Regions from separate parts of the Homo sapiens genome. Here region 2 is linked to region 1. Evidence: fine-mapped expression QTL. A gene starts in region 1. The other region holds a variant in brackets. All regions are shown on one strand. Distances are between the middles of the regions. Region 1 holds the start of SLC35D2 (solute carrier family 35 member D2). Region 2 overlaps ZNF367 (zinc finger protein 367).

Region 1 (4,392 bases):
AGAGCCCTGGCGGTGGCCTCCCAAGGCCCCACACAGGCCAGCAATCCATTACTCTCAGACCCCATCTGCTACCATTCCCATTCAAACTCTTCACTCCTCCAGGCCTGGAATGCTCTTCCCCCGTCCCCCAGTGTGGCTTATGTCCCCACCTCACTCTGGTCTTGGCTCCAATGCCACCTCCTTCTGAGGCTCCACTGATCACGCTCACACTGCATACTCTCCCCTCCCTCTCTCCCTCACTCCCTTTCCTGTTTTATTTTTTCCCCAGCACCTTGGTCACATCTGACATAATGTAAATGTTACTGGCTCATTTATTGGTCCACAAGGATGCAGCTCCGTGAAGTTAAGGATTCTGATCTGCTCTTTTCACTTCTCTTTCCCAAGAACGGTGGGAAAACACTGTTCTCCTCGAACAGTGCTGGTACATCACAAGTGCTTAGTGAAAGCTATCAAAAATGAGAGAAAGAGCTGACTCCTGCCTTCCCTGCCTACCTCCCCGCCCAGGCACAGTGATCTTCTCTCTGTTCCTCCAGCAGCCAAGCTCATGCCCACTTCAGCACATTGTACACTTGCTGCTCACTTCTACCTGGAATGCTCTGTGACAGCTACTCCAGCCCAGGCACTCTCACATCAGATCTGAAAGTGTCTCGTTTATTCATGAACCTACCTGTTTATTTTCTGTCTCCACCACTGAAGCAGAATCTCCAGAGCAGGGACCTTGTGCTGTTCACAGAGGCTTCCCTGGTGCTTGCAATGGGCTCAGTATTTAGTAGGTGCTTAATAAATATCTGTTGGAGGTACAACCAATCGAGCTTATGTGGGCCTCAGTTTTCTCGAATATAAAATAAGAAAGGTGAGGCTGGATGAGATAGTTTGCACCTGTAATCACAGCACTTTGGGAGGCCAAAGCAGGCCTAGACCAGCCTTGGAAACACACTGAGACCCCACCTCTACAAAAAATCAAAAAAATTGCCGGTGCAGTGGTGCACACCTATGGTCCCAGCTTCTCTGGAGGCTGCAGCAGAAGGATTGCTTGAACCCAGATGGTCGAGGCTGCAGTGAGTCATGATTGTGTCACTACACTCCAGCCTAGGCAACAGAGTGAAACCTTGTCTCAAAAAAATATTATACACACACACACACACACACACACACACACTATATATATATATATATATATGCCTGCCTTGGCCTCCCAAATGCTGTGATTACAGGTGCAAACCACCTCAGCCAGCCTCAGCTTTCGTATTTTATATTCGAGAAAAGTGAGACCCACATAAGCTGAATCTGTATGTATATATAAAAAAAGAAAGCTGATACTCTAAGATACTCTCTAACTAAGACACTCTAGGTCTCTTTGGGCTCTAAAATGTTGATGGCATATTCTTGTAACATAGTAGAGTTTACAAAGAGCCTTCACATATAACAGCTCGTGCAGAGCCCTGGAGGGTAATTAACACGATTGTAATCATTCAGGTTTTTTGCATCTGAAAAAAATTGCTGACTGTGAGACTGGTCCAAAAAGACAGGTGTTAACCGGTGGAGCTGGGTCTAAATCCACAATTTTCTCAGTGCCGCTACAATGGTAGCAGAATTAAGCAGGATTTTCTAGTCCTTACAAATAGGTTCAAGGCAGCACAAATTTGCGTTTACTTCACACTAATCCAAAAAAGTACTCCATATGAACTTCCAATTGTTTTCCCGAGTTTTCCATGAACACGCTGGTCATCTGAGAATGAACAGTCAATCAATACAGACTTACTGGCTCAGGAGTACCTGACCGTTGAACATGGAGATCTGTGTAAGGAATTGCGTCCTTTGAAGCAGGCATTTGAATCCCTGTTTTCAGCTCGCTGGGTGTATGAAAGAATCTGTCTGAGCTCTACCAGCCCACCTAGGACAGGGCGCCTCGCAGCAGGGCAGGCGCGCTCAGGAAGAGAACGACTTTCTCAGGTTGTGGCCTGAGTGTAGAAAGCTGAGCGAGTTCTGGAGGGCGCCTGGGAAACTCGACCAATGTGCCCAGCTGAGACTCGAGGGTCCCTGTCCCCACCCGCCCTGTCCCGGGCGCCGCTGAAGCGCACGGAGGACAGGGGCAGCCCCGCACTCCCGCAGACCCCCCGGCCCCGGGCCCCGCCTCACCCGTAGGTGGTCAGCAGCGCCTTGTTGACAAGCACGATGAGGAAGGAGCAGGTCCCGTAGAAGAGCGCCGACAGCAGCCGGGCCACCCGCGAGGGCAGCCGCGCCGCGCCGGGCTCCCCGCCAGCGCCCTCGGCCTCGGCCTGGCCGCCGGCCGTCATCTCCTGCGGCCCCGCGGACCCCGCCGCCCGCCAGCCCCGGCTGCGCACTGGTCCCGCCCGGCCGGGCCGGGGAAGAGGGCGCGGCAGGAACAGGAAGAGCCCGGCGCAATCCCAGGTCCCGACCCGCCCCCTGCGAGCGCCCGAGGCCGGCGCGGGAGGACCCTGCGCGCTGGACTTCACCCTGGTTCCAGGCACCTCCTTCGGTCTCCAGGGCCGGCAATGCGCTGGGGAGTTGAAAAGCGCTGCCTTCCTCCAGGCTTTCCTGGAAAGAAACGCTTCAGTAAGTCTCAGGGCTTGTTTTGCTTTTTTTTTTTTTTCCCTACAACTTTTTTGTTTAGTGTATAATTTACATACAATGAAGTGTACACATCTTGCCAGTCCATAGTTTGAGATGAGCTTCGACAAAGGCATCCACAGGAGTAACTACTCAAAACAACATTTCCATCGCCCCAAAAATTCCCCTTGCTGCCCCTTTGAAGTTAACGCCCGCATCTCATCGATGACTATTGCTGTAGGTTAGGTTTGCCTTTTCCGGAATTTCAAATAAACAGGGTGCTTTCTAGAATTTATGAATGAGCATGTGGTCTCAGGGGTTTTCACTCTATGCTTTGGACTCGACCATGTGGTTTGTTTAATCGTTGAATAGTATCACAAATTGTGTATCCATTGGTTGTTTCCAGTTTAGGACCATTAGGAAAAATGCTTCCATGAAAATTCGTGGGCGTTTGTGGGACCTGTGTCTTCATTTCTCTTAAATAAATATCTAGGAGTGGAGTGGCTAGGAGTAAGGTGGGTGAAGCCTTGGGACTTGGGTGTCCTCTGGGTGCTTTGTGGTAGGTGCATTCCTCGCGGAGGGCCGTTTGCCTTCGGGTCAGGTCAGTTGAAGGACAGCTTCCCAGAACCGCCTACCCTTGTCAGTCTTTAAAAAATATGAACTTTTGGCCAGGCGCGGTGGCTCACACATGTAATCCCAGCACTTTGGGAGACCGAGGCGGGCAGATCACGAGGTCAGGAGATCGAGACCATCCTGGCTAACACGGTGAAACCCCGTCTCTACTAAAGATACAAAAAAAATTAGCCGGGCGTGGTGGCGGGCGCCTGTAGTCCCAGCTACTCAGGAGGCTGAGGCAGGAGAATGGCGTGAACCCGGGAGGCAGAGCTTGCAGTGAGGCGAGATCGCGCCACTGCACTCCAGCCTGGGCGACAGAGCAAGCCTCCGTCTCAAAAATATATATATTATATATTTAATATATAATGTATATTATATATATATATATATATGAACTTTTAGCTTCTTAGAAAAGCTTAAGATTTCAAGTTAAATAAAAGTTGGGGCCTAACTATATAGATGCCCAGAGAATTGTTTTTCTACCCTTAGGCACTAAACAACCAGGAGAATGAAAACTGGGAAACATTTTCAGCCCTGATAAGAACTAAAGCAGAACTCGTGAAAATTAGCTAGCATTAAAAAGACCAGAAGTGCCCAAGTTACCCAAAACAAGAAAGAAAAGACATGTTAAGTCCGTTTTAAAAGAGAAAATGAATCCATATTCAAGTTAAACAGGAAATCGGTCATTTTGGTTAATTTCCTCAGAACATTCAATTTTCTTGTGAGTCTCCAAATGTTTTGACTGCAAAAAGAATATTTTAAAGTTATTTTTAATGATGACCTTCATCATAATTGCATTTAGTTTGATTGTATACACATACTTCCAGGACCTTACCTCGCTGTCAAAATCCCATCCTTACCCTGTTTAAACAGCAACTCACACTAAGGAGTTGCTTGTGATATTCTTCTGCACAAGGGTAGGACAGGCTGACCCTTGCCACTGCAAATACACAACTAAAGATCTACCAAAAATAACTGATGAAAAAAGAAAACCAATTTGCTAGACTCTTAGAAAAGTACACAGGCTTTAAATGGATTCTTGAGGAGCTGACCCCAGAGACAACCCATCCTAAATGTAAGTGAAATGAAATCCCTTTTCCTTATTACCCTAATTTAAGGCCTGGAAATGGGGTGGCAATAGTTCAATACTTATCCACAGCAGTATATTTTTAACACTGTAGTAATGAACCCGATGAGGAAGTTAAA
Region 2 (4,392 bases), 30 kb after region 1:
TAAACAAATAAATATGCAAGAACATATTGCTGACTTTTGCAATTTGAAATAACTGATTAGTTAACATAAAAAAAAAAGTTAACCATATGGCTGCCTCCCAGCAACTCTAAGAGACTGTTTCTGCCACCAGCAACACATTTATATTTTCCAAATGAGAAATGGAGTGAGTGCTGAAATATACAGCATAATACAACATACTGGCCATATACAGGGAAGGGTTCACTAAGTGCATTCTTTTGGGTTTTTTTGTTTTGTTTTTGTTTTTTGAGATGGACTCTGGCTCTGTCGCCCAGGCTAGAGTACAGTGGCATGATCTCAGCTCACTGCAACCTCCGCCTCCTGGGTTCATGCGATTCTCCTGCCTCAGCCTCCCAAGTAGCTGGGACTATAGGCAAGCGTCACCATGCCCAGCTAATTAATAAGTGCATTATTTTAGCTCAGAAAATAAGACAAAACAAATAATCATATAATGCCCTAAATAAATGAATAAAGACCATCTTTTAACAATACATATTAAAATAAGCAATGTTACTTAAAGAGGACCCTCTTCCTTTTGGCCTTAACAATGAGAAAACCATGTTTCTAGGCATCTTCGGACAATTACAGAGTGTTACACTCAGCAGCCAAGTGCACCTGGAGGCTAAGGACAGATCTTGTCAAGACTGTTGACGATTCGCAACACAAAATTATTAAATTGCCAAAAACTTTTGCATACCTTAGTAATTATAATTTTAAAAACAATCTCCATACCTCTAGAAGGTTGATTAGTGATTTTGAAAGTGTTTAGTCATGTGATAACTAAAAAACCTAAAAGTCCTTGACACATTTTTATAAGTAGAATTCAAATAAAGGGAACAAGCACAACCTAGAAGGAAAACAAAAATAGGTCTCAGAGGGAGGCGTGTGAACCTTTTCACATTCAGATTTAGATACAAACTTCCCATGACTTGCATACATGCTTCCTAACTTGTAACTACCTACTTCCCATCCTGACCTATCTTCACAACTTCTCAAGTTTTAATTCCAGTTTATTGAATTGAGTGCACTTTTATAAAGCATCTCAATTGAGACATAGATAAGCTATACATAGTATGTATTTCTTTTTTCTTTTTCTTTTCTTTTTTTTTTTTTTTTGAGACAGAATCTCGCTTAGTCGCCCAGGCTGGAGTGCAGTGGCACAATCTCAGCTCATTGCAACCTCTGCCTCCCGGGTTCATGTGATTCTCATGCCTCAGCCTCCCGAGTAGCCGGGACTATAGGTGTGCACCACCATGCCCAGCTAATTTTTTTGTATTTTTAGTAGAGACAGGGTTTCACCATGTTGGCCAGGTTGGTCTCAAACTCCTGGCCTCAAGTGATCCATCCACCTTGGCCTCTCAAAGTGCTGGGATTACAGGCATCAGCCAGCATGCCCGGCCAATAGTATGTATTTCTTATGTCTACTTATCTCAGCTTAATATTTAAAAAACAAAAATAAACCCCTGAAGTCTATTTACATGTGATAGTCCCAGGAGCAGTGCAGTATAGGGACTAAGAACAGGGACTCTAGAAGGTTCCGATCAGTTCTGCCACTTACCATACAATCTTAACTAGA[T/C]TTTGTCTTGGGGACTCTAATTTCTCATTCCTCATCAGGTAAACAGGATAAAATGAATTAAAGAATTCAAAATGCTCAACACAGAGCCCAGCAGTTTGCTGCTAACATTATGAAATGCTTACTCTGTGCCAGGCAATAAATAGTGCCTACTATGTTAACATGATGTTAGGTTTAACATGGTGCTCAAACATTACTATTCATAAATACTATGAATTTATGTATTATGTATAAAGTATTTAAAAATCAGCTATTCGTAACAGTATGTACAGTCTAGGTTTTGAAGTGTTCAGGTGACACAGAAAGGGGAAGTAGGATACGGCAGCCGGTAGATCCTGTAGGGTGAATAGTATCTGAGAAGCCAGACCCCACCAGCCCCAGTGAAGAAGTAACTTCAAATGCAGTCTTAGTAGAGGGCACAGGGACAAGGTGGGGAGCCTTGGAACAACTTGTGGCAGAAGGCAGTTAGACCTGCTTTCTTCCCTCTCAGAATTCTACAATCCAGAAGAAGATAATATATAATTATATGCCAACAGTGCTAAGCACTCGTGTGATGAGCAGCCAAAATAAGCTAGTAGGTGTTCCCACAGGCGAGGGAGGCAGTGTTGGGCAGGAACAATCAAAAGAGCAAGAGAAAGCTGACACAGGGTGTGCAGGACTCAGACGCTGACACCTCCCCTGGGAGAAGTGGCAAAGAATAGACAGTAAATGAACGCAAATATTGTTCTCAAACCCACAGCTGTTAGTGCCTCTATGTGGCATATTGGGAGAATGTTATTGGCACTGGCTATATTGCAGACTTGTCTCCTCTCTTCCCCAAAAATGAGCAGACTCAGCACAATTCCCTGATGATGCACATGGAGATAAGGAACTACAAGTACTTTAAAGAAGCAAAACAGTAAAACAGGCTGGGACTCTCTATCTTTGTAGTTCAGTGTACTGACCACAAATCAAACTAAGCAACTTCCTTATTTTTTTCTTTTTCCTTCTTGCCCCCACAAAGCTTAGTCTAGCTAGCAACTTTCTTAAATAAAGGTGTATTCCAGACCCTTCTGTCTTACGGTGGGAAAGCTAAATAAATGAATTTTTGGAGCTGCATGTGGATTGCTTCATCAATAGAAAGACATATTCAAATCAATTTACCAAATAATTTATGAAAGTTACAACAGGAAAAACTACATGAGAAAAGAAAAAAGCAGAAATATAAAACAGCCATTTCACTTTTACATGTTTTTTACAACCGTTGGTATACTTTACCTCTGAAAAGAGGTGTACAGCATGGAAATACAATTCAAACCCATGCATCTTGTTAGCAATTTTTTTTTTTTAAGACGGAGTCTCACTGTGGCCAGGCTGGAGTGCAGTTGCACGATCTCGGCTCACTGCAACCTCCGTCTCCAGGGTTCATGTGATTCTCCTGCCTTAGCCTCCCAAGTAGCTGGGACTACAGGGGTGTGCCACCACACCCAGGTAATTTTTGTATTTTTAGTAGAGACAGGGTTTCACCATGTTGGCCAGGATGGTCTCGATCTCTTGACCTCGTGACCAGCCAGCCTCGGCCTCCCAAAGTGCTGGGATTACAGGCGTGAGCCTCCGCGCCTGGCCACAGTTAGCAATTTTTATAAAATGTCTGGGTAAGGACAAGTCTGTTTTAGGCCAAAAACAACATACCTATAGATTTCATCTATATAACATTAATCTTCTTGGGTGATCCAGAACTAGATTAATCTATAAGAATAAAACCATAAAGGCAAAATCTTACACAAGAACTTATGAATGTATGCCTTTATATTGTTCAACTACATAATCTAATTTAGTGTTTTTTTTAAAAGACTAAAACTTATAAATGGTTAACACAAAAATACCTAGGATACCCATCCAAATTTTTTTTTTTTTTTTTCTGAGACAGAGTCTTGCTCTGTCGCCCAGGCTGGAGTGCAGTGGCACGATCTCGGCTCACTGCAAGCTCCGCCTCCCGGGTTCACGCCATTCTCCTGCCTCAGCCTCCCGAGCAGGTGGGACTACAGGCGCCAGCCACCACCCCTGGCCAATTTTTTTTTTTTTTTTTTTGTATTTTTAGTAGAGACGGGGTTTCACCGTGTTAGCCAGGATGGTCTCTATCTCCTGACCTTGTGATCCGCCTGCCTCGGTGTCCCAAAGTGCTTGGATTACAGGCGTGAGCCACCCACCCGGTGGATACCGATCCATCTTACATCTCACTAGGGGATACCTAGAGGCAGCCCAACAGCAACTGTAGCCTTTAGTAATACTCAGCAATACTATCAACGCTTCTATCGTTAGTTTCTTCATTTTTTTTTTTTTTTTTTTTTTTTTTTTTTTTTTTTGAGACGGAGTCTCACTCTGTCCCCCAGGCTGGAGTGCAATGGCGCAATCTCGGCTCACTGCAACCGCCGCCTCCCGAGTTCTACCAATTCTCCTGCCTTAGCCTCCCAAGTAGCTGGGATTACGGGCGCCCGCCACCACGTCCGGCGAATTTTTATATTTTTAGTAGAGACAGGGTTTCACCATGTTGGTCAGGCTGGTCTCGAACTCCTGGACCTCAGGTGATCCACCCGCCTCAGCCTCCCAAAGTGCTGGGATTACAGGCGTGAGCCACCGCACCTGGCAAGTTTCTTCAATTTTTGTTAAAGAGTTGAGGTCTTGCTTTGTCACCCAGACTGAAGTGCAGTGGTGCTATCATGTCTCACTGTAGCCTCAAACTCCTGGTCTCAAGTGATCCTCCTGCCTCAGCCTCCCATGTAGCTACGTATATAGGTGCAGGCCGCCAGATGCGGTCTATG

Evidence for each region. PIP is the estimated chance that this variant, and not a neighbour inherited with it, causes the effect. A credible set is the group of variants that fine-mapping cannot tell apart.
Region 2: its variant is the best candidate, but not a certain one, in a credible set for the expression of SLC35D2 in whole blood (TOPMed, PIP 0.50).

What each region holds. Positions count from the first base shown.
Region 1 is chr9:96,381,338-96,385,729 of GRCh38, forward strand. It overlaps SLC35D2 (solute carrier family 35 member D2), which reads right to left and starts at 2,374. Exons shown (of 12, transcript NM_007001.3): 1 at 2,140-2,374. The coding sequence starts at 2,297. It overlaps SLC35D2-HSD17B3 (SLC35D2-HSD17B3 readthrough), which reads right to left and starts at 2,374. Exons shown (of 26, transcript NR_182427.1): 1 at 2,140-2,374. RefSeq lists silencers at 1,973-2,022, 2,033-2,362.
Region 2 is chr9:96,411,580-96,415,971 of GRCh38, forward strand. All of the region lies in intron 1 of ZNF367 (zinc finger protein 367), which reads right to left. Among named protein-coding and RNA genes, the nearest start is that of ZNF367, 4.6 kb to the right of the region's middle. RefSeq lists enhancers at 1,627-1,796, 2,100-2,229. The variant T/C (reference allele first, on the strand shown) is at 1,595.